7 linked regions of the Homo sapiens genome follow. The protein of the gene in region 1 purifies or fractionates together with the protein of each later gene. This does not show direct contact. Each region holds a gene or a part of one and is shown in the gene's direction. Other genes may lie near its edges. The genes, in order: CLEC4E, MYO6, SLC7A11, RNF166, POMGNT1, CLGN and CBR4.

Evidence for each region.
Region 2: the proteins of CLEC4E (region 1) and MYO6 purify together in Homo sapiens (affinity purification with mass spectrometry, with the first as the bait; one large-scale study listed by BioGRID). This does not show direct contact.
Region 3: the proteins of CLEC4E (region 1) and SLC7A11 purify together in Homo sapiens (affinity purification with mass spectrometry; one large-scale study listed by BioGRID and IntAct). This does not show direct contact.
Region 4: the proteins of CLEC4E (region 1) and RNF166 purify together in Homo sapiens (affinity purification with mass spectrometry; 2 studies listed by BioGRID and IntAct, with this or other methods). This does not show direct contact.
Region 5: the proteins of CLEC4E (region 1) and POMGNT1 purify together in Homo sapiens (affinity purification with mass spectrometry; one large-scale study listed by BioGRID and IntAct). This does not show direct contact.
Region 6: the proteins of CLEC4E (region 1) and CLGN purify together in Homo sapiens (affinity purification with mass spectrometry; 2 studies listed by BioGRID and IntAct, with this or other methods). This does not show direct contact.
Region 7: the proteins of CLEC4E (region 1) and CBR4 purify together in Homo sapiens (affinity purification with mass spectrometry; one large-scale study listed by BioGRID and IntAct). This does not show direct contact.

Annotation. Positions count from the first base shown.
Region 1 is NC_000012.12:8,532,805-8,535,355, reverse strand, and holds the end of CLEC4E (C-type lectin domain family 4 member E), read left to right. Parts: intron 1-546; coding exon 547-718; 3' UTR 719-2,051; downstream 2,052-2,551.
Region 2 is NC_000006.12:75,881,739-75,885,238, forward strand, and holds part of MYO6 (unconventional myosin-VI), read left to right. Parts: coding exon 1-80; intron 81-3,500. UniProt on the Homo sapiens protein: Myosins are actin-based motor molecules with ATPase activity. Unconventional myosins serve in intracellular movements. Myosin 6 is a reverse-direction motor protein that moves towards the minus-end of actin filaments.
Region 3 is NC_000004.12:138,163,597-138,166,473, reverse strand, and holds the end of SLC7A11 (cystine/glutamate transporter), read left to right. Parts: 3' UTR 1-2,377; downstream 2,378-2,877. UniProt on the Homo sapiens protein: Heterodimer with SLC3A2, that functions as an antiporter by mediating the exchange of extracellular anionic L-cystine and intracellular L-glutamate across the cellular plasma membrane.
Region 4 is NC_000016.10:88,696,409-88,699,908, reverse strand, and holds the end of RNF166 (E3 ubiquitin-protein ligase RNF166), read left to right. Parts: exon of another isoform or gene 1-175; intron 176-176; coding exon 177-289; intron 290-823; coding exon 824-938; intron 939-1,299; coding exon 1,300-1,407; intron 1,408-1,793; coding exon of another isoform or gene 1,794-1,975; intron 1,976-2,275; coding exon 2,276-2,341; 3' UTR 2,342-3,408; downstream 3,409-3,500. UniProt on the Homo sapiens protein: E3 ubiquitin-protein ligase that promotes the ubiquitination of different substrates. In turn, participates in different biological processes including interferon production or autophagy.
Region 5 is NC_000001.11:46,191,935-46,195,434, reverse strand, and holds part of POMGNT1 (protein O-linked-mannose beta-1,2-N-acetylglucosaminyltransferase 1), read left to right. Parts: intron 1-473; coding exon 474-591; intron 592-783; coding exon 784-882; intron 883-1,033; coding exon 1,034-1,161; intron 1,162-1,509; coding exon 1,510-1,580; intron 1,581-1,795; coding exon 1,796-1,871; intron 1,872-2,046; coding exon 2,047-2,130; intron 2,131-2,219; coding exon 2,220-2,261; intron 2,262-2,476; coding exon 2,477-2,535; intron 2,536-2,844; coding exon 2,845-2,917; intron 2,918-2,998; coding exon 2,999-3,127; intron 3,128-3,211; coding exon 3,212-3,337; intron 3,338-3,500. UniProt on the Homo sapiens protein: Participates in O-mannosyl glycosylation by catalyzing the addition of N-acetylglucosamine to O-linked mannose on glycoproteins.
Region 6 is NC_000004.12:140,403,649-140,407,148, reverse strand, and holds part of CLGN (calmegin precursor), read left to right. Parts: intron 1-1,065; coding exon 1,066-1,207; intron 1,208-3,500. UniProt on the Homo sapiens protein: Functions during spermatogenesis as a chaperone for a range of client proteins that are important for sperm adhesion onto the egg zona pellucida and for subsequent penetration of the zona pellucida.
Region 7 is NC_000004.12:168,987,090-168,990,172, reverse strand, and holds the end of CBR4 (3-oxoacyl-[acyl-carrier-protein] reductase), read left to right. Parts: coding exon 1-23; 3' UTR 24-2,583; downstream 2,584-3,083. UniProt on the Homo sapiens protein: Component of the heterotetramer complex KAR (3-ketoacyl-[acyl carrier protein] reductase or 3-ketoacyl-[ACP] reductase) that forms part of the mitochondrial fatty acid synthase (mtFAS).

The DNA of each region.
Region 1 (2,551 bases):
AGTATTATTAATCTTTATTTAGCATTTGAGGAAACTAAAACTCAGCAGAGTTAAGTGACTTAGCTAATGAGCAGTTCTAAGAGTACAACAGAGATACTCTGACATGTTAGAAATGCTGCTTCACTACCACACTGTAACATCACTGCAGGATGCACCTAAGTTAATACACACTCTGTGCAGAATAAAGAGAGCTAAGCCGATATGAGGTATGAGTGTGAAGAAAACAAATCTATCAGAATATCAATCTTCCCCATAACTTCTCATTCTATAGCTAAGGAACAGGACAGAATAGAAAAGGAACAAAGGAACAGGACAGAATAGAAAGTCAGAAAGATCCGGTTCAGCTTCAGTACTCACAAACTGTGACTTCGACAACTAGTTTAGCTTCCTGAGGTTCCTTTTCTTCTTCAATAAAATGGACATTATAATACCTACCTCGCAAAATTGTTGTGAGGTTAAATAACACAAATGTAATTTGCCTAGTATATTAGGTTACTTTACCTCTTTTTGCTGGGATTTTAAGTCTCCTATGTCATTCTTTTTCAGCTTCTGGGATGTAGGGGAGCCCAACAACATAGCTACCCTGGAGGACTGTGCCACCATGAGAGACTCTTCAAACCCAAGGCAAAATTGGAATGATGTAACCTGTTTCCTCAATTATTTTCGGATTTGTGAAATGGTAGGAATAAATCCTTTGAACAAAGGAAAATCTCTTTAAGAACAGAAGGCACAACTCAAATGTGTAAAGAAGGAAGAGCAAGAACATGGCCACACCCACCGCCCCACACGAGAAATTTGTGCGCTGAACTTCAAAGGACTTCATAAGTATTTGTTACTCTGATATAAATAAAAATAAGTAGTTTTAAATGTTATAATTCATGTTACTGGCTGAAGTGCATTTTCTCTCTACGTTAGTCTCAGGTCCTCTTCCCAGAATTTACAAAGCAATTCACTACCTTTTGCTACATTTGCCTCATTTTTTAGTGTTCGTATGAAAGTACAGGGACACGGAGCCAAGACAGAGTCTAGCAAAGAAGGGGATTTTGGAAGGTGCCTTCCAAAAATCTCCTGAATCCGGGCTCTGTAGCAGGTCCTCTTCTTTCTAGCTTCTGACAAGTCTGTCTTCTCTTCTTGGTTTCATACCGTTCTTATCTCCTGCCCAAGCATATATCGTCTCTTTACTCCCCTGTATAATGAGTAAGAAGCTTCTTCAAGTCATGAAACTTATTCCTGCTCAGAATACCGGTGTGGCCTTTCTGGCTACAGGCCTCCACTGCACCTTCTTAGGGAAGGGCATGCCAGCCATCAGCTCCAAACAGGCTGTAACCAAGTCCACCCATCCCTGGGGCTTCCTTTGCTCTGCCTTATTTTCAATTGACTGAATGGATCTCACCAGATTTTGTATCTATTGCTCAGCTAGGACCCGAGTCCAATAGTCAATTTATTCTAAGCGAACATTCATCTCCACACTTTCCTGTCTCAAGCCCATCCATTATTTCTTAACTTTTATTTTAGCTTTCGGGGGTACATGTTAAAGGCTTTTTATATAGGTAAACTCATGTCGTGGAGGTTTGTTGTACAGATTATTTCATCACCCAGGTATTAAGCCCAGTGCCTAATATTGTTTTTTTCGGCTCCTCTCCCTCCTCCTACCTTCCGCCCTCAAGTAGACTCCAGTGTCTGTTATTCCCTTCTTTGTGTTTATGAATTCTCATCATTTAGCTCCCACTTATAAGTGAGGACATGCAGTATTTGGTTTTCTGTTCCCATGTTTGCTAAGGATAATGGTCTCCAGTTCTACCGATGTTCCCACAAAAGACATAATCTTCTTTTTTAAGGCTGCTTAGTATTCCATGGTATCTATGTATCACATTTTCTCTATCCAATCTATTGTTGACTCACATTTAGATTGATTCCATGTTTTTGCTATTGTGAATAGTGCTGCAATGAACATTCGTGTGCATGTGTCTTTATGGTAGAAAGATTTATATTTCTCTGAGTATGTATCCAGTAATAGCCCATTCATTTATTGCATAAAATTCTACCAATACTGATGACGTTATTAAAGAGTACATCAATAACGTGGCAGCTTTCATAACCATGTTTCTTGCACAAAGTGCCATGAGGAGACCCTCAAAATTCAATCACTGGACACCACGTGTAATCACTGAATGAGAAAATTCAACTGGACAAGTGAATATAACACATCAGCTTTCATTGCAAAAGTTTATTTCTCTTAGGCATTGTGACAATCTGGTTTTCAAATCAACACATCTTTAAGCCAATTATTTAACCTAAAAGTAATTTTAAACATACTTTCAACTTTCTAATTCCCTTTTTTAAAATCATGAACATCAATAAGGAGATGCTGAAAGACTTTTTTTTTGTTCATTGGTGTTTCCCTGAAGGTGGCTATAATTTAAGTTTTATTTCTAGATTGAAAGACATATGGAAATATTATTCCATATTATTTCTCCATATATATTTAGAATTTAAGTTTAAAGACAAGTTTTAAAGACAGGTTTATAAAACTAAACTTGTCTTTACAGTT
Region 2 (3,500 bases), on another chromosome or scaffold:
GTTGGTTAAAAGAGTCAATCACTGGCTCACATGCAGTCGCTGGAAGAAAGTTCAGTGGTGCTCACTCTCAGTCATCAAATGTAGGTGTTTTCCTTTACACCTATAGGATCTTTCATTGTTTCAAGATGGTTTGTGGAGTGTTGTAAAGCTGTCTCAGAGGTGATGCTGAGCAACAGAGACTGAGACTTGTTCACACTGGGTCCCAGGTTCCTATTTGTAGATGTTCTTTCTTTTTTTATTTTTTGAGTGTATGATATTTATTTTCTTTATTCAAATGTGTTATAAGAGTGTCAGTTTCATAGTGTCCTAACAAAACAGAATTCACTATCTTGATCTCTCGTCCCCGCACCCCTCACCATCCCCTAATCTCTCAGACTTAAACCAGAACTTTTCTTTCTGCCTGCATGGCATCTACAATACACATACCCCGAAAATTCTAATTGTAATTGATTTTCCTTTCTTATCCCTGAAATATTGTCAGTCACCAGATCCTGTTGATTCCTTCTCCAAATACTGTACATTCCTTTCTTTTTCTTGCCAGTGCCTTAGTGAAGTCCTTTTCCACCTTTTGCATAATAATTCCATTAGCTCCCAGACTGGTTTTCCTGGTTTCTTAGAGATATCTCTCTAAACTAGAAGCCTTTTATAACTTTCCTTTCATAAAAGGTGAAGTCTAAATTATTTGATGTCTTTCAAGATCATGTAAAATGGTGTGTCAGTTTTTTGTTTCAGTCTCTTCCCCCACCATCCCCTCTTAAATCCTGTTTTTTGAACGGAAGTCTGTCATAATCCTGAAAGACACTGTCTTGAACACCATAATCCCAAATGTTGAAATCTTAAAAGATGAAAGTCCCAAAACTAGGATTCTGTAAAAATAATAAAAAAAGATATTTATTTACATTTTAAAAAGGGGATTTGAGAAACGTATAAAAACATGACAGAACTCTTCATAGGCCACTTTTCACAATAAAATAGGCAATAACATATATATAGGCAATAAACATATATGTTTATTGAAACTATAAACACATATACTAACAATAGTTGCATGGGTATAACAGGAGCAGACAAACCGTATTCATAAAGAATAGGGCGAAAGGTGAAATGCATAAACACATATTATTGTGGTTGGTAATTGTGCACCCAGCTTTGTTACTGCAGTCATCTGAAATACTGTGATGATGAACAAGCTGTCTTTTGATGAGATCAGTCAAAAACCATAGTGAGTCACCACTGCATTTGTAGTTGCCCAGAGAACTGAAATCTTGAGAAATTTTATCTTTTACAAGTGCAGATGTATGATAAAGGACATCTGTTCATTGATTAAGTTTCAGTGTTTTTATATACATACACAATGTTTACCCAGAAAGTAAATGTTGTGGTAATGCATTTTCATGGAGTTAAATTTGCAAAAAATGAATACAGTAAATTAGAACTCTCCAAAAATTTCTACATAATTAAAAAATGCTAACAATTTAAGATAGTGAAAATAAAAACAAAGAAAAAAAAAACACCCAAAACTAAAAAGGAAGTTTGACATAAAAAAAAGTGTATCACAGGGACAGATTATAGGCAGTTGCATGGAGATAGTCCATAGAGCTGGCTGTCTTTCTCAGTCATTAACTATATTTTGAAGTCTTGTACCACGAATAATAGGTGCTTTTTTTCTTTTAGGACATGGTTCTTGGAGAATATGTTCATATTCATTTTCTTCATGAGATTGCTCTTTTTGGAATTCTTCTGTGATTCCTCTGATTGGGATTTTTAGGATTTTTGATGTTAGGGATTTTAATCTAGGAATTTTGATCTTTTGGGATTTCAACATTTGGGATTATGGCTTTTGGGATTAGGAATTCAAACCCCTTTGACATACTGGGCTAAGCTGCTTTTATGTGTGGTTTGGCCAGGTCATAGCAGCTACATAGCTGGCCCAAGACAAAAGTGAGGGACAGAACATTTTGGGGTTACCTAAGGATCTGTGGCAAACCTTTAATTGTTGGGAGCTGTGTAGGAATCAGTAACTTGATTACATTTACAGTTGCCCCTTATACTCATCAGAGTACCTGAAATAGTGCTAGGTACATGAAAAGGATCCAGCGAATTTTTCCTTATCAGTAGAAAAGGAAAATTCTTTTGGCCTAATGAAAAAGAATCATGCTAACAAAGATTATTTTTGAGGTATTTTGTTAGACAATTGTGAATATAGATAAAAAGAGAACTATTAATATAAAAAGAAAAAAGATAGCAGAATCTTTTCCCCATCATTTTCCAAATAAAATACAGAAACATCTTTATTACTGTAGTTTAATACGTTCAGCTTTACACATTGCATTATGATAGGAAACACATTATAGTAAACTCATCTGTTACACCATTCATTTGTGGACTGTGTTCTACAGTGGTACCGAAGTCAGTAACCGGGCAGGGATCTTTGCAGAATGTTAATAGGAAACTCTGAAAAAAAAGTTCAAGGTCAGATCATCCTAGGAAATTGTGAGTAACTGAAGTTAAGTAGATTTCTTTGCTGTAGGATTCTCAGAGGCTTCACTCAGTATGTTCATTGTGAACCTCCATACAGAAGTATAGTGTACAGCTTTTCATAAACTCATTTGACAGGTAAATCCTTTTTTCAGGACATACCTATTCACATTTCATAGAACAAATGTTGCCTAAGACAGTTTGGGAGGTAGCAGTGTAGCATACTAAGGAAATAATGCATTTAAAATGTAAGCCTAACCAGATACATGATATTGTAACTGCCCAGTGGGTTCTCCTTGCCCACTACCCAGACAGAGCTGATTTATCAAGATAGGAATTGCAGTAGAGAGACAGTAATTAATGTAGAGTCGGCTGTACGGGACACTGGAGTTTTATGATTACTCAAATCAGTCTCTCTGAAAACTCGGAGATCTGAATTTTTAAGGATAATTTGGTAGGTAGGGGCTTGGGTTGGAGATGAAATCATAGGGGGTCAAAATTGAGTTTTTCTTGCTTGCTTCTGTTCCTGTGTGGGAGCACAGAACTGGCTGGGCCGGATTACCTATCTAGGTGGCATCAGCTGGTGCATTGGAAGGTCTGCAAAATATCTGGAGCACTGATTTTAGGTGTTACAACTGTGATGTTATACCTGGGAGCAATTTGAGGAGGTTCAGATTCATGCAGCTGGAGGCTGTGTGGCTCCTAAACCGTAATTTCTAATCTTGGAGCTAATTTGTTAGTCCTACAAAGGCTGACTGGTTCCCCAGGCAAGAAGGGGGTTTATTTTGGGAAAGGGTTATTATCATGTTTGTTTCAAAGTTAAACTTTAATAAACTAAGTTCTTTCCCAAGATTAGTTCGGCCTACACCCAGGAATGAACAAGGACAGCTTAGAGGTTAGAAGCAAGATGGAGTTGGTTAGGTCAGATCTCTTTTACATAATTTCCTTGGTTGTAATTTTTGCAAAGGCAAAATTACATCTTTCAACATCTTTTTATTTTTAAGAAGAATAAGAAATTATAG
Region 3 (2,877 bases), on another chromosome or scaffold:
TTGTTAAAGCCTCAGAAGGCCGTGCTGAAAGCCAGAGGGGAAAAAAAGAGTAATGCACAGGTATCTCTTTTGCAGTGGTGACTGTATTTTGAGTACCTTGTGTGACAGGGTATTATTACAGCATCTTGTGGGAAAACCTATTAGGCCTTTGCATGTTAAAGCTGTATAATTTGTTGGGTTGTGAGTGGTCTGACTTAAATGTGTATTATAAAATTTAGACATCAAATTTTCCTACTAACTAACTTTATTAGATGCATACTTGGAAGCACAGTCATATCACACTGGGAGGCAATGCAATGTGGTTACCTGGTCCTAGGTTTGAACTGTCTTATTTCAAAAGATTTCTGAATTAATTTTTCCCTAGAATTTCTCCTTCATTCCAAAGTACAAACATACTTTGAAGAATGAAACAGATTGTTCCCATGAATGTATGCTCATACTCGACTAGAAACGATCTATGTTAAATGACTGTGTATATGAATTATTTCAAGTACTACCCCAAATAACTTTCTTATTGCTCTGAAAGAAGAAAAGCAATGTAAATCACTATGATTATTGCACAAACAACCAGAATTCTCCAACAATTTTAAGTAATCTGATCCTCTTCTTGGAGAAAATTGTTACCTAATAGTTTTTCCTTATGAATGTTATTACTACTGGTATAAATCAAATTTCTATAAATTTCCTACTTAAGTCTTAAGAACTGGGTTCTTCCTTTGATGTTATTCATGTTCAGAAAGGAAACAACACTTTACTCTTTTAGGACAATTCCTAGAATCTATAGTAGTATCAGGATATATTTTGCTTTAAAATATATTTTGGTTATTTTGAATACAGACATTGGCTCCAAATTTTCATCTTTGCACAATAGTATGACTTTTCACTAGAACTTCTCAACATTTGGGAACTTTGCAAATATGAGCATCATATGTGTTAAGGCTGTATCATTTAATGCTATGAGATACATTGTTTTCTCCCTATGCCAAACAGGTGAACAAACGTAGTTGTTTTTTACTGATACTAAATGTTGGCTACCTGTGATTTTATAGTATGCACATGTCAGAAAAAGGCAAGACAAATGGCCTCTTGTACTGAATACTTCGGCAAACTTATTGGGTCTTCATTTTCTGACAGACAGGATTTGACTCAATATTTGTAGAGCTTGCGTAGAATGGATTACATGGTAGTGATGCACTGGTAGAAATGGTTTTTAGTTATTGACTCAGAATTCATCTCAGGATGAATCTTTTATGTCTTTTTATTGTAAGCATATCTGAATTTACTTTATAAAGATGGTTTTAGAAAGCTTTGTCTAAAAATTTGGCCTAGGAATGGTAACTTCATTTTCAGTTGCCAAGGGGTAGAAAAATAATATGTGTGTTGTTATGTTTATGTTAACATATTATTAGGTACTATCTATGAATGTATTTAAATATTTTTCATATTCTGTGACAAGCATTTATAATTTGCAACAAGTGGAGTCCATTTAGCCCAGTGGGAAAGTCTTGGAACTCAGGTTACCCTTGAAGGATATGCTGGCAGCCATCTCTTTGATCTGTGCTTAAACTGTAATTTATAGACCAGCTAAATCCCTAACTTGGATCTGGAATGCATTAGTTATGACCTTGTACCATTCCCAGAATTTCAGGGGCATCGTGGGTTTGGTCTAGTGATTGAAAACACAAGAACAGAGAGATCCAGCTGAAAAAGAGTGATCCTCAATATCCTAACTAACTGGTCCTCAACTCAAGCAGAGTTTCTTCACTCTGGCACTGTGATCATGAAACTTAGTAGAGGGGATTGTGTGTATTTTATACAAATTTAATACAATGTCTTACATTGATAAAATTCTTAAAGAGCAAAACTGCATTTTATTTCTGCATCCACATTCCAATCATATTAGAACTAAGATATTTATCTATGAAGATATAAATGGTGCAGAGAGACTTTCATCTGTGGATTGCGTTGTTTCTTAGGGTTCCTAGCACTGATGCCTGCACAAGCATGTGATATGTGAAATAAAATGGATTCTTCTATAGCTAAATGAGTTCCCTCTGGGGAGAGTTCTGGTACTGCAATCACAATGCCAGATGGTGTTTATGGGCTATTTGTGTAAGTAAGTGGTAAGATGCTATGAAGTAAGTGTGTTTGTTTTCATCTTATGGAAACTCTTGATGCATGTGCTTTTGTATGGAATAAATTTTGGTGCAATATGATGTCATTCAACTTTGCATTGAATTGAATTTTGGTTGTATTTATATGTATTATACCTGTCACGCTTCTAGTTGCTTCAACCATTTTATAACCATTTTTGTACATATTTTACTTGAAAATATTTTAAATGGAAATTTAAATAAACATTTGATAGTTTACATAATAAATGTCGTCATGTTTTGCTTTCTTTTTAAGCAGTGTATATTCATTTAAATTGAAGGCCTTAGTTTTAATGATTGATTGAATTTATCTATTACTGATTCCCCAAATTTGTTGGAGCATCCCACTTTACACCAGTTTCCTGTACTAAAAACTGGAAGTGTTGGCAGACCCAGTCTCCTGGAAACACTCTTCTTTTCTTTCTCATGGTCTACATCCATCTGTCCTCTGGTCTGAAATATCTAGCTCCTCTTCTATTTCCACCTGTACAAGTTCAAAATCTTTTCATTTCAGGCCTTTAACAAGAATTTTGTCTTTTATCTCTTTACACTCTCAACTGTTTCCCCAGAATGTTCTTCCTGAAACTCAAATGAGGTCAAAATTTTCAATGGTTTCACATTTATATATATATATATATATATATTTTATTTTGTGGATGGATAAAATTCAAACTCCTCCATGTAACACATAGGGCTTTCCATCACCTGTCACCTTTCTTTCTCC
Region 4 (3,500 bases), on another chromosome or scaffold:
TGGCTGCTCAGTGCCTGAGATTGTTTTAGCAGCAGAAGGGACCGGGTCCCCCTGCTGCTGGCAACACAGACGCTTGCTTACAGTTCTCTGGTCCTGGACACCTGAGGTCTCGGCCTCCCCAGGACGGCCCTTCCAGATTCTCAGGACCGCCTTGCCCTCCCTGCCCTGTCTCCTAGGTGACCCTGGCAAAGATGAGAGTGCACATTTCGTCCTGCCTGAAGGTCCAGGAGCAGATGGCCAACTGCCCCAAGTTCGTCCCCGTGGTGCCCACATCACAGCCTATCCCCAGGTAGGCACGCTGCCGGGCAAGGGAGAGGAACTGTCCTCGGCGGTTTCCTCGTTCTGGGAGCAAGCGCAGTGCCCCATCCCAGAGAGGCTGGGGGAGTCACCCGGGGCCGGGTCCACTCTGGGGAAGTGGACCTTCCTTGCCACCCTGCAGGAAGGCTCCTGTGCTGCCCTCCCTGGCATACCCACCAGGCCCCCTGGGGTAGGGACAGCTCAGCTGTGGGGAGCAGGAGGAGGGCGCAGGCCGGGCCCACACATCGCCTCCCAGCAGGTGGATGGGCCGAGAGACGGCTCCTGCCAGGGCAGCGCCAGCAGAGTCTCTGCCGTTTGGCTGGCCTAGTTGTGTGGGGTGGACGAGGGTCCTGGGTGTGTCCTCAGGAGGCCATGGCGTGCAGAGGCACGGGGGGCACCCAGCCACTGCCACGCTCTTGCAGCCTACAGAGGGCAGGCCTGGGGCCACGCCTGTGTTTGAGAGAAGCGGGGAGGCAGAGCCCCTAGACACCTAGCCGTGCCACTCACTCTACCCCCGCCCCGCCAGCAACATCCCCAACAGGTCCACCTTCGCCTGCCCGTACTGTGGTGCCCGCAACCTGGACCAGCAGGAGCTGGTGAAGCACTGTGTGGAAAGCCACCGCAGCGACCCCAACCGCGTGGTGAGCAGTGCCTGCCCCAAGCGACGCCTGCGCCAGGGGAGGCCTGTGGGGGACAGTACAAGGCCCAGGAGCCTGCTCGCGGCGAGTCCGGGGGTGCCCAGGCCACAAAGGCCTCCTGGGACCCAGGGTGGGAACTTGGCTGCCCGAGCAGCACCTGGCGGAAACCGGGGAGTGTCCATGAGTCCTTCAGGGTGACGCGCACTGAATAACTCGCTTGTCACCGGGACACGCGCCTCCAGGTCTGGGGTGCCTTCCCAGGCTGAGGCAGCACTGACGGGGCTCAGTGGAGGGCCCCCAGTCCTACTGCGGCTACCCCGCCTCTCCGCGGTCCGGCTCGGCTTGACCCCAGTGCCTGTTCCAGGTGTGCCCCATCTGCTCGGCAATGCCCTGGGGGGACCCCAGCTACAAGAGCGCCAACTTCCTGCAGCACCTGCTTCACCGACACAAGTTCTCCTACGACACCTTTGTGGTAGGCATCCCGCCAGCACCGTCCTCCCCCACGCCCTCCTCATCCACCCTCCTCCTGCTCGGGCCCCTCGCCAGCCTCAGGGTCCGCAGGGTTCAGAGGAAGCCAGAAACAGAAGCCTCGTTTCAGGTGGCCACATTCCCCCAGGTTCTGTGGGGGCTGCCTGCAGGTGGGGAGTGATGGCAGCTGAGTTTGAGTGGCCACTAGAGGGTGCCCAGGCCTCTCGGGGACATGGACCGCACAGGGCAGGTCCCTGCCTGCCCACCCCACAGAACCCCTCGAGGGTGAGCCAGGCTTCCTTCTGGAAGCTTTCTAGAGAGCGCGGGAAGGACTTTCATCAACATCGAACACTCCAGCCCTGTCTCCTTTTCCCACCCGCCGCGGGTCAGGCACACACCTGGCCCCCGGGCCTGCAGACCCTCGCACAAACTCCTCACTCCTGGTGCGGCCCCTCCCTGCGCCGCCCTGTTCATTCCTGGCCCTGGCTAACAGTCCTGGCGATGGCTGTCACTCCCTCTGCCAGTCGTCCGGGACCCACGCTCCGCCTGCCTCAGGATGGAAATTGTTAGAGGTCAGGGAGCCCTGGCCGGCCTGCTCACCTCGGAAACCCCGGGCTTAGAGTCCGACCTGAACCAGCAGCCATCCATTCCGAGTGCCCCCGTACCCAGCGGGTGATGGACACACCTTCACCTTCTCACCCCCCAGAGGACCGTGCAGGCCCCGAGCCTGTGGGGACAGTGGAGCTGGGTCCTTCCTGTGTCCTGCTGGAGGGAGGCAGGAAGGGTGGACACGCCTGTGTGGGTGATGGGCAGAGGGGACCTCTCCTTCCTGTCTCCCTCGAGCCCGGTGCATCTCTCCTTCCTGTCTCCAGGACTACAGTATTGACGAGGAGGCCGCCTTCCAGGCTGCTCTGGCCCTGTCTCTCTCTGAGAACTGAAGGGAAGCGCAGCCACCCGCCTGCGTCTGGGGTCAGGGATGTCCCCGCTCCTGTGTCGCACCTGGCACCTGCTCGGGAGCGCACCTCACCGGACTGAGCTCACAGGAGGAGCCTGCACCCGCGCAGAAGGGGAGCCGGGGCCGAGCCTCCGGGCCTGAATACGGGCCAGCCGCCGAGGCCGCCAGAGCAGGGCCGCCTGGTCCCACCGGCGTCGCTGGGTTCTTCGGTGCTTCTGGCCGAGCAGGCGGCCTACTTGGGCAGGGCTGGACGCTGGGACCTGGAGCTGCCGCCGTCTCTTCAAAGCCATGATACCCCCTCGTGGGAAGAAGGGACCGACGCGCGAGTCGCGCTCCGCAGTCGAGCCGGGAGGAACCCAGGCTGCTGCCCTGCCCAGCCCGACCCTGCCCCGGCCCCACTTCCACCTTGCGCATTTGGTACTGGCTTTTGTGATACTTAGGAACCCTGGCATCTTTTCTATATTATCCAGTGTGATAATCTTTTCACGTTTTATAGAGCAAAGACAGAGCAGTTACTCTTCATATTGCAATATCTGTGTTTGACTAGGAATAATAGTATTTTTATGGAACATTTACAAAATTATATTTTTTAAGAAAACAATCAAAACAAGCATTGGGGGATTGGGGCAAGGATGGAAGGAGCAGTGGGGCAGCTGCCAGAGCTCAGGCGAGCCATGGGGTCTGCTGTGGGGTCTGCCCTGGCCACCCACTGTGTGTCTGGGTCCTTGAGGTTTGTACGTTTCTCTTTGATGACCAGGAAGAAATCCCAGCACCCCAGCCACAGGCTGTGGCTGCTCCCAGCAGAGGCGGGGCCGGCAGAGAAGGGGCCTCCTCCACCCAGAGTCCTGGCCTTGGCCCGCTGTCACCTTCAAAGCTGACTGTGCCCCGCTGCGGGAGGGGACGGCACCCCAGTGGTGGCAGAGCTTGGGGGCCTGGGCAGGGGCCCGCTTGGCGGGCCGGGCAACACGTCAACATTCTTTTCTGTTCTTGGCATTAATTATTGCTGTCTTTTTTTTAAAAAAAAAAGTTTAAATAAAATGTCTCAGAGCATCTCTAGCAGCCTCGACTGGCTTTTGTGCTCCACGGTGTGGAATCGCCAGCTGCTGTCTGTGTTGGAGGTCGGCTGTGTCCTCCCCAGGCAG
Region 5 (3,500 bases), on another chromosome or scaffold:
TAGAAAGAGAAGGCCCCTGCAAGGAGATGATATGTGAGCAGAAAGCTGAGGAATTGAGGAGTGAGCCAGGTGAGTATCTGGAGGAAGAGCATTCCAGGTGGAAAGAATGGCAAGTGCAAAGCCCCTATAGTGGGAAGGTACACGGCATATTTGAGGAACAGCAAAGATGCTAGTCGAGGTGGAGCAGAATAAGGGAGGAGAGTAGGAGAGTGGTTGGAAAAGAAGGCAGAGAGTGGCGGGAGAGAGAGGTGCAGATCGTGTGGGTTTGTGGAAAGGACTTATTAGCTGGATGACCTTAGAATCTCTAAGCCTTCAGTTATTATTTTATCTGTGAAAGAGAGTAACCATAGAGGGTTATTGCAATAATGTAATGAGCTATTTTAAGTAAAAGGTTGCTACATAGTTCGTGCTCTGTGAGGCCAGGTCTCCTGGAACCATGCCAGTCAGGCTAACTGCCTTCTCTGGTCCCCCAGGATGAGGGCTCCTTCCACCTCAAGGACACAGCCAAGGCTCTGCTGAGGAGCCTGGGCAGCCAGGCTGGCCCTGCCCTGGGCTGGAGGGACACATGGGCCTTCGTGGGACGAAAAGGAGGTGCCGGCATCAGAGGCCATCCACTCTGTAGTATCAAGAGCCTGGGAGGAGCAGAACCCTAGGAGATGGGGTGGGGTGGGGAACAAATAGGAGCCAGTGGCAGTGGGTTGGATGAAAGTAGGCAGGGAGATGGGAAAAAGCCCCCAAACTGGTGTCTGGGCCCCCATGGCCCTCATTCCTGCCTCCTGCCAGGTCCTGTCTTCGGGGAGAAACATTCTAAATCACCTGCCCTCTCTTCCTGGGGGGACCCAGTCCTGCTGAAGACAGATGTGCCATTGAGCTCAGCAGAAGGTGGAGTTAGTGGAGCATGGATGGGGCAGGGCCTGGGCTGGGGGTGGGCATTTAGATCTCTCTGTGGAGCTTTATTCCTTTGATTGTGTGCCTGGGGCTCTTCAAACCTTGCTGGCCCCATGCCTCCATGACAACCGCATCCTTCCCTCAGAGGCAGAGTGCCACTGGGCAGACACAGAGCTGAACCGTCGCCGCCGGCGCTTCTGCAGCAAAGTTGAGGGCTATGGAAGTGTATGCAGCTGCAAGGACCCCACACCCATCGAGTTCAGCCCTGACCCAGTGAGTGGGGCCTTAAGACAGTGAGGTTTGGACTCCTTCCCAGCTCAGCAGGGGGGCCCCAGGAATGATCTAGGTTGGGCTTTCCCTACCTGAGCCTGGGAGAGAACCAGGGGCAGGATTTACACTGCGCTCTGAAAGACAGGGCTGGGGTGAAGGGGCAGGCCATGTGAGTAAAGCTCAGCGCTAGAGTTGGGCTGAGTGTGTGGAGAGCCCAGAACAGGGAAGATCCTCTATCCCTTCCCTGTCTACTCCAGTCTGCACCTACCCTCACCTGAGAAGTCTTCCCTAGGTGGGGATCCCAGTTTGAAGGGGGAATAAGGCAAGAGCTAAACGCTATTTCTCCCACAGCTCCCAGACAACAAGGTCCTCAATGTGCCTGTGGCTGTCATTGCAGGGAACCGACCCAATTACCTGTACAGGTAAGCCTGGGAATGGGCTATACCCAGCACTGAACAGGAGGGTGCTTAGGTCATCTACCTCCAGGAGGAACTCTTGAGGTGGGCAGAAAGGCAATAGATTCTAGACGCATTCACCTCTGTGGGTAAGCATAGGGACTCTGGGCCCAGCTGTAAACACAGGGGAACCTGAGTTGAGGGGTGATGAAGTGACCCTAACCTATCCCTGGGCTCCCCAGGATGCTGCGCTCTCTGCTTTCAGCCCAGGGGGTGTCTCCTCAGATGATAACAGTTTTCATTGACGGCTACTATGAGGTGAGCAGGACTTGGGGGGTGCCTCGGGTGGAGTACAACATGGAGCAGCAGTGATTGCCAGGGACGGGCAAGGGAGACCGCCCAGGCAAGGGCTGTGAAATGTGAAGGCCTTGGATTGCAGAGGTGGGCAGAGGGAAAGTGACCTCACATGGTGAGCAGTGGCCATGTCCCCCAGGAACCCATGGATGTGGTGGCACTGTTTGGTCTGAGGGGCATCCAGCATACTCCCATCAGCATCAAGAATGCCCGCGTGTCTCAGGTACTGCATAGGCAAGTGGGGATGGGGCAGACACCTGGCTCTGCCTTCTACCCTAAAGCTCATGTGCCCTATTCCCACCCCACTCCCAGCACTACAAGGCCAGCCTCACTGCCACTTTCAACCTGTTTCCGGTGAGTACTAAGGATACAACTCTTGGGCCTGGGAGGGGGGAAACATGGGCATAAGGTCTGGGCCTGTTACGTGGCAAGCTCTTCCCCTCACTGGGCCTCATCCTTCACATCTGGAAAATGGGGGTAATGCTGCCTGCAAGAAGAGGGTTGGGGGCAAAGGAGATCACAGGATGGAGAGACCCCTTTGGGACCATGATGTCCCATTCCCCTTCTAGGAGGCCAAGTTTGCTGTGGTTCTGGAAGAGGACCTGGACATTGCTGTGGATTTTTTCAGGTGAGGGGAGTCTCTAGGTTTCAGTTGAGGTCCCTCAGTCTGCAGGGAAAGAGTCAGTGAGGTGTCCTAGAGAGCTTTCTGGAGGACATGAGCTCACAAGTGGGGGCGAAGCCTGGGCAAAGGTAGGATGGCAGGTGTTGGGGCTGCTGTTGAAGGTACAGTGGATGAATGGAGACAGTGGGGATTTGGGGGAAGGAGGTACTCCAGGAAGGAGGTGCTCCTGAGACCCAGCTCCAGCAATTCTAGCATCTCTGTGTGACTAGATTTATCCTTGTCCCTCCCTGAACTCTTTGACCCTGCCTCTCTCAGTTTCCTGAGCCAATCCATCCACCTACTGGAGGAGGATGACAGCCTGTACTGCATCTCTGCCTGGAATGACCAGGTAGGCTGGAATGACCAGGGTTTAGCAGGCGAGTTTATGAGGCCTCAGCTAATACCTCCCACTATGGCACCCTGTCCCCAGGGGTATGAACACACGGCTGAGGACCCAGCACTACTGTACCGTGTGGAGACCATGCCTGGGCTGGGCTGGGTGCTCAGGAGGTCCTTGTACAAGGAGGAGCTTGAGCCCAAGTGGCCTACACCGGAAAAGGTAACTGTCAGGGTAGGGTGAGGGGGCTGGAGTCCCCTACCAACTCGAAACATCTTAACCTTCATCGTGGTCCATGTCTGCCAGCTCTGGGATTGGGACATGTGGATGCGGATGCCTGAACAACGCCGGGGCCGAGAGTGCATCATCCCTGACGTTTCCCGATCCTACCACTTTGGCATCGTCGGCCTCAACATGAATGGCTACTTTCACGTGAGTGGGAGGCAGGGAGCAGGGCACAGTGTGGCATGACAGTCAAGAACAAGAACATGGACTCTGAAGCAATCTTAGCTCTGCTACTTGCTAGCCATGTAACCTTGGGGAAAGAGCTATCCTATTTTTGCCTCAGTTTCTTTATCTGAAAAATGAGGATAAA
Region 6 (3,500 bases), on another chromosome or scaffold:
AAACTTGGAAACTTAATAAAAACACACACATTTTTAAAAGTCTAAAAATGTATGTACAATTATAGACCAAAAATTACCCCTCTTTGATTTATAAGACTGTGTCTGGTTCTTGCATTATTTTTCTTAGAAAGAAAAAAAATGATATAAGAGCATTTGTGATTCAAAAGTGCTCATTAATGAATATTTTGAGTTGACACAATACTGGAAAATAGCCAGTTTTGTCGAATTGAATTTTCTTGGAATAGGCAATACCTATCATTTTCAAAACAGAAGATTTTACACAAACAAATATAAGTTGATTTTCTATTCTAAAACCAGTAAAGGAGTAAAGTCTAACATATAACTTTTGGGCTATAGGTAGCCCACCTAGCTTTGCATTGTATGTGGCCCATAATCTAATTTCAGGAATGTCCTGATCTTAACATGGAAAATTGTAACACAGAGAAGGCCTAACTCAGTTTTGCCTTGTTGTAGCTTAGCACTTATGCAGTGCTTTGCTGCCTTCCTGGCCAAAAGTTCTGAGAGCTGATTAGTGTACCCTGAGAAGGGTTTGTGTGAATTAAGCATGCAGTTTTCAAAATGAACTTTAAATCTTTACAATAACTGCTGCAAGTAAGAAAAGTAGCTGATGAGTATTGTGCATTTCAAAATAAATAGACTACTCATTTTGTGTTATGTGTCATATGCAGTTTCAAATATGTCATTTTGAAAATACAATATTGACATACCCTATTGAGACAAACCACATTTTATAATTTCATTGATTAAAAACTCTTTCATAGAAAAACCAAACTAATTCAGCTTTAAGAGTGACTTAATTAGACACTATAGTGTTTGCTATTAGTTTTCACAACTTTAGTTAAGAAGATGAAATCATTCTTTGATAGAAAAAAAAAGATAAATGAGCAGGCATACATATATAGTTGAAGATATTTCCTGATTTAAAATTTTTATTTTTCCCAAGTCAGGCTTCCTGGATAAAAATTATTGTTCACAACTGCTGATAAATAATTCTTAGGTCAATGTTTTCTGTTTTAGTTTAATTTGCTTTGCTTTATTTTTTAGGAAGATGGGAAATTGAAGAGTTGAAAGAAAACCAGGTACCTGGTGACAGAGGACTGGTATTAAAATCTAGAGCAAAGCATCATGCAATATCTGCTGTATTAGCAAAACCATTCATTTTTGCTGATAAACCCTTGATAGTTCAGTAAGTGTTGCTATGTTTTTGAATACTTTTTCTGAATTTTGTATTAGCTTTGGCTTCTGAATATAGCTTGTATTTTGAAAATGGATGTGAAAATCTAGATCTTCCTTTTTCGTTTCACTTAGTTAAAACACAAATGTGCATATACACACAAACATATCCATGCTTTCAATAAAAAGCAGGTAAATGATAAAATTATACAAAGATCAACCATTCTTATGGCCTAGTACTAATATTTATATTTGTTTATTTCAAGGAGTTGTATGTGGGCTATTAAGCAGCATATTTCCTTTGGTCTGAGTGCTTGTATTGACTAAATGAGGAATAAATAGTTTGGCTCTCTTAAAAAAATTTAAAAATTATGTGATATATACTGTAATATATACAATTCTGCTGTCATAAACTATATAATGCATAGTAAAAATCACCATTTTTGTTTTACTCTTAAAATTACTTGTTATCGCCGGGCGCGGTGGCTCACGCCTGTAATCCCAGCACTTTGGGAGGCCGAGGCGGGCAGATCACGAGGTCAGGAGATCGAGACCATCCTGGCTAAAACGGTGAAACCCCGTCTCTACTAAAAATACAAAAAATTAGCCGGGCGTAGTGGCGGGCGCCTGTAGTCCCAGCTACTTGGGAGGCTGAGGCAGGAGAATGGCGTGAACCCGGGAGGCGGAGCTTGCAGTGAGCCGAGATCCCGCCACTGCACTCCAGCCTGGGCGACAGAGCGAGACTCCGTCTCAAAAAAAAAAATAAAAAAAAAAATAAAAATAAAAAAAATTACTTGTTATCAAAATATTAAACAATATATTCAGAACAGAATAATAAAAATTGCTATTAAACCAGTGATAAGATTCAAAGGCAGAAAATTTATTTCAAAAATAAATGTTTATGAATACCAGTGTCTTTCAAGCAGGGACCCCTTTTAAAGGTCACATTCTCACAGATAATCCTTTCTTTCAACCTCTCCACCTCCCCACCATGCCTGGCATGGTGCCTCATGCCTCATGTGTGTAATCCCAGCACTTTGGGAGGCCTAGGTGGGCAGACAGCTTGAACCCAGGAGTTCAAGACCAACCTGGCAACATGGCAAAACCCCGACTCTACAAAAAAATTTTAAAAATTAGCCAGGCATGGTGGTGCCCGACTGTAGTCCCAGCTACTCTGGAGGCTGAGGTGGGAGGATCACCTAAGCCCAGGAAGTCGAGGCTGCAGTGAGCCAAGGTCACACCAGTGCATTGCAGCCTGGGTGACAGAATGAGATCTTGCCTCAAAAAAAAAGAAAGAAAGAAAAAAAAAGAGGACCAAGAATTGAATAGCAGTCTTTCATATGTTTAAAAACAATTCAAAGGAGAGTGAATGTTTGTCTCCTCTTAATATTGATAAAATGAAATGGGGTAAATAAAATGAAGAGATTTATATTCAATGCTATAAATGCTGATTTACAACATAACTTTACTATAAAGCTGCTTTTCCCAAATTGTATACATGTTAATATATATGAATATAATTAAAGATGAAGAATATCCTAACTCAAAACGTAGGAAGTAAAGGCCTGGCGCAGTGCTTCACACCTGTAATCCCAGCACTTTGGGAGGCCAAGGTGGGTGGATCACGAGGTCAGGAGATCAAGACCATCCTGTCTAACATGGTGAAACCCTGTCTCTACTAAAAATACAAAAAATTAGCCGGGTGTGGTGGCAGGCGCCTGTAGCCCCAGCTACTCGGGAGGCTGAGGCAGGAGAATGGCGTGAACCCGGGAGGCAGGGCTTGCAGTGAGCCGAGATCATGCCACTGCACTCCAGCCTGGGCAACTGGGCAACAGAGTGAGACTGTCTCAAAAAAAAAATAAATAAATAAATAAAAATAAAATTAAAAAAGGAAGTATGTTAGCTCATTAAAGACTGAGAAGTTCTACATATGAAAACCTGTTTTCAGCATTACTACTGTGTTTCCCAAACACATTTGATCACATAAGTTTATTTTCCCACCTAACAGTAATTGCTATTTCATGGAACAATTTGAGAAATGATACTCTAAAGAAATTAAGGTTACCATATACTCTGCATATGTCCTTGGTTTTCCTATGACTGGAAGTTTAGCAGTAGTCAAGCTGTATGATAAACATTTTGTTGATCCTCTAATCCATTGTGAATCATTTATACTAGGTAAAAGTTAATTATTTGAAAACTCTAAAAGTTTGCAGTATAAGAAATGGACAAGGTGATTGAATCTAGGCATAATGGAACAATGAAACTGTGTTCACATTTATGCAGCCACTGTACAAAATTGTTTT
Region 7 (3,083 bases), on another chromosome or scaffold:
GGGGATTACAACTCATTTTGTAATTTGCAGATTATTCAGTTATAGGGGTGATTAGCATCAAGGGCACACTTTGGCTACTGATTAGACAATTATACCTACATGGGTAACATGTGCTAATCAAACCTGCTGATGCTACAAATGTTAATTTCTGTCTTTATAAAAATATGTCTCAAAAGAACAATGTGTGACAAATTGTGGTTTTTTTTTTTTTGGTCTAAGTTACATCAGTGTTGTTTTGTTTAAAAAGCCTTCATGAGATACAATTCACATACCATATAATCACACATTTAAAATACACAATTCAGTGGTTTTAACATATTTAAATACATGTGCAATCATCCCCCCAGACAAATTGTGTTTTCTAAAGGATGTGTATCACTTACCTTTGGTTACCTCATAGACTGTAGCAATCTTAGTGTATAGACATTTTGCAAGTCATATAAACAAGTATTGATTTATATATTTTGTCTCAAAAGTGGAAAAATTATATTGTCTAATTATGATGAATTATTTTCTTGTATCAAGCTGAATTTTCTAAAAGTTAACCTTGTGGGCTGTTGCCAAAATAAGAGTATTTAGAGGACACTGATTAGTTGTCAATACTTTAGCAAGCCCACTAAAGATAACTATATTCCTTTTGCATGTGCTTGGGTGATCAGTTTTTATACAGGTTGCAAAACATAGTATTCATTAAAGACATGAATTTAGAATTGATTTCTTTGAGTGGTATTTCTCTTGATTGAGCAGCTAGACAAAATAATCTGCAAATTTAAATGTGGCGCATTTGACTCATTCTTGAGAAATTCTCATAAGTGAAGAGGATTAGCCCTTAAGGTTTTAATACCTGGTACAGTAGTGAACCGCACAGATTTCATGAACTTAGGATGTGTTTTTTATTCATGAAAAACTTAGAATAGTGAACTATTAATATTTAAAAACGAGAAATACAACATTTAAAAAATTAAGAGTATTTTGCATTAGTGATTATGATTCTTATCCCAAAATTCTAGAAAGTAATAAATTCTGTATGAATAAGCATAAAAAATAAATAAATATGCAATAACATTAAATTAAATGTCTTTACAAGAAGCAGTGAAGGCACTGGTCTTAAGTGAGAATATTTGCCTGGGAGTAGAGATAAAGACACAAACCGAATGTGAAATACCAGGTAATAATTATTTTGCATTAAACTCTTTTTATCGGGAATAGTATGATATTTTCAGTGTCACTCCATTCATGTTGATTTGGAGCTGACAGTTATTTTGTGTAAGCAGAGATTTAATTTTATATTGAAAGTCAGTGCAAAATTATGAATAGGATATACTAATAAATACAAAGTAATAACAAAAGTCAAAGCAGTGTTCTAAATAAAAATTCTGGGTTCCTTAAAAATTATTTTAAATTTATCTTTGAAATAGTTTTCTTAGATTAATCTCAGGATATGAGAAAGTCAATTAAGTGTGAGTAAAGTTAGTATCATTAAACAAATTGTCTATTAAATGCAAGACGTGGTAATATACAGAATTTATCAGGCATTACCAAGTCTAGGCACATATAGGAAATGCAGCACTCAGAATGGTTTCAATGTAGTAGTTGATGCTTGTAAGGTAGGGGAGCTTATTCAGACATAGTAGATAGTTTCTCTAATGCTGTCTCAATTGCTGGCCTTTGGCTACCTGTACTTCCCCATTATGGCAGCCCATTCAGTCTTGAGTTTTCTTCTCTGGACACCTTATGCTCTGAAATCATGAGCGAGGCTGATTCAATTGGTGATTTGGGTAGAAAGCAGTATGTTTTGCTGACATTAAGATGTAGGTTATAGATAGGTTTAGCCTTTAAGTGTATGTTTTTATACTTTAAAATAAGAAATATAACCTTTTAAGCTATTCCACCTCCTCCCCCAGCCTATCTCAAACTGGTGGAATATATGGAGAGATCTTGAAAGAGGTAAAATAAACCTTCACTGCTCCACTCCAGGTGAATCCGCCCACTCCCACTGACCTAGTAGAATTTGTAATTTAATACTTACCTTCTATTTCTGAAATCAGTTGTGAACTGTTGCCTTATGTTCAGAGGTTTAAGAACCTCAGTGAATTCATTTTTTAAAATCTGCTATTCTGAGAAGCATTGAATGAATTCTTAACAAGAAGACTCATCTGTAGCTGTTTGCTGACTCCTATGAGCCCATAAGGGTTCTGTGCTTAGCATTAACAAAATAAGGTTTATAGGTAAAGCCAATGTATTAATTTTTTTTTGCATGGAGGGCTTTAAAATTTGTGCTCTTTTTCATATTTTATTCATATTCAATTTATGGTTTGTAACTGCTTTTTAGGGAGATAATTATATGTTATAAATTAGTTTTGGGGGGAATAATTGTGCAAAGAGGATAATTTAATTTACGTGCTTCTGTTATTCAGAATAAAGAGAGAAGACTACGCTGCATATTCAAGAGTTGTACCTTAACATTGGTGAAACATTTTTTCTAAGATTTTCAAAAGGAATATGTGTAAATTGAGAAATCATAACCACTGTCCTAACTTGGTAAACAAACTGTTCTTAAATAAAGTATTTAATGATTTTAAACTTTCTGATGTTAATTTTATCTTTCTCTGCAACTATAAGAGTAGAGTTTAAAAATTTGTCTTTCAATTCAATTGTAAAACTTTTGAGGGAAGAGACCATACTGTGTTCATTCATTTAGCTAATTAAGTAACTCAACAGATACTGAGTGGGTACTAAATATTTTGTATTTGTTTTGATACCCACACCTTGCCTACTCATCTCTGAGTATATTGGATATATGCAGTAAAATATTCTTTAGTCATTACATTGTGCCATAGTTGGGGAGATCATTGAGATAAATCTGTTCTGACTCTCAGTTCATATCTTGGAATATTTCTTGATCAGATTCCTTTGGCTTTTTATGCGACTTTGATGCTTGCTTTCACTTTATAACTGAATTTGCAAAGTGAATCGACTATTTTCTCTTAGGCAGTATGCTTTCAGTTTGAGTAATTGTTAATACCAGCAATTTAATTAGAAAGCTTTGGCCTAATAATCCAAATGGAGATGGTATCAGTATT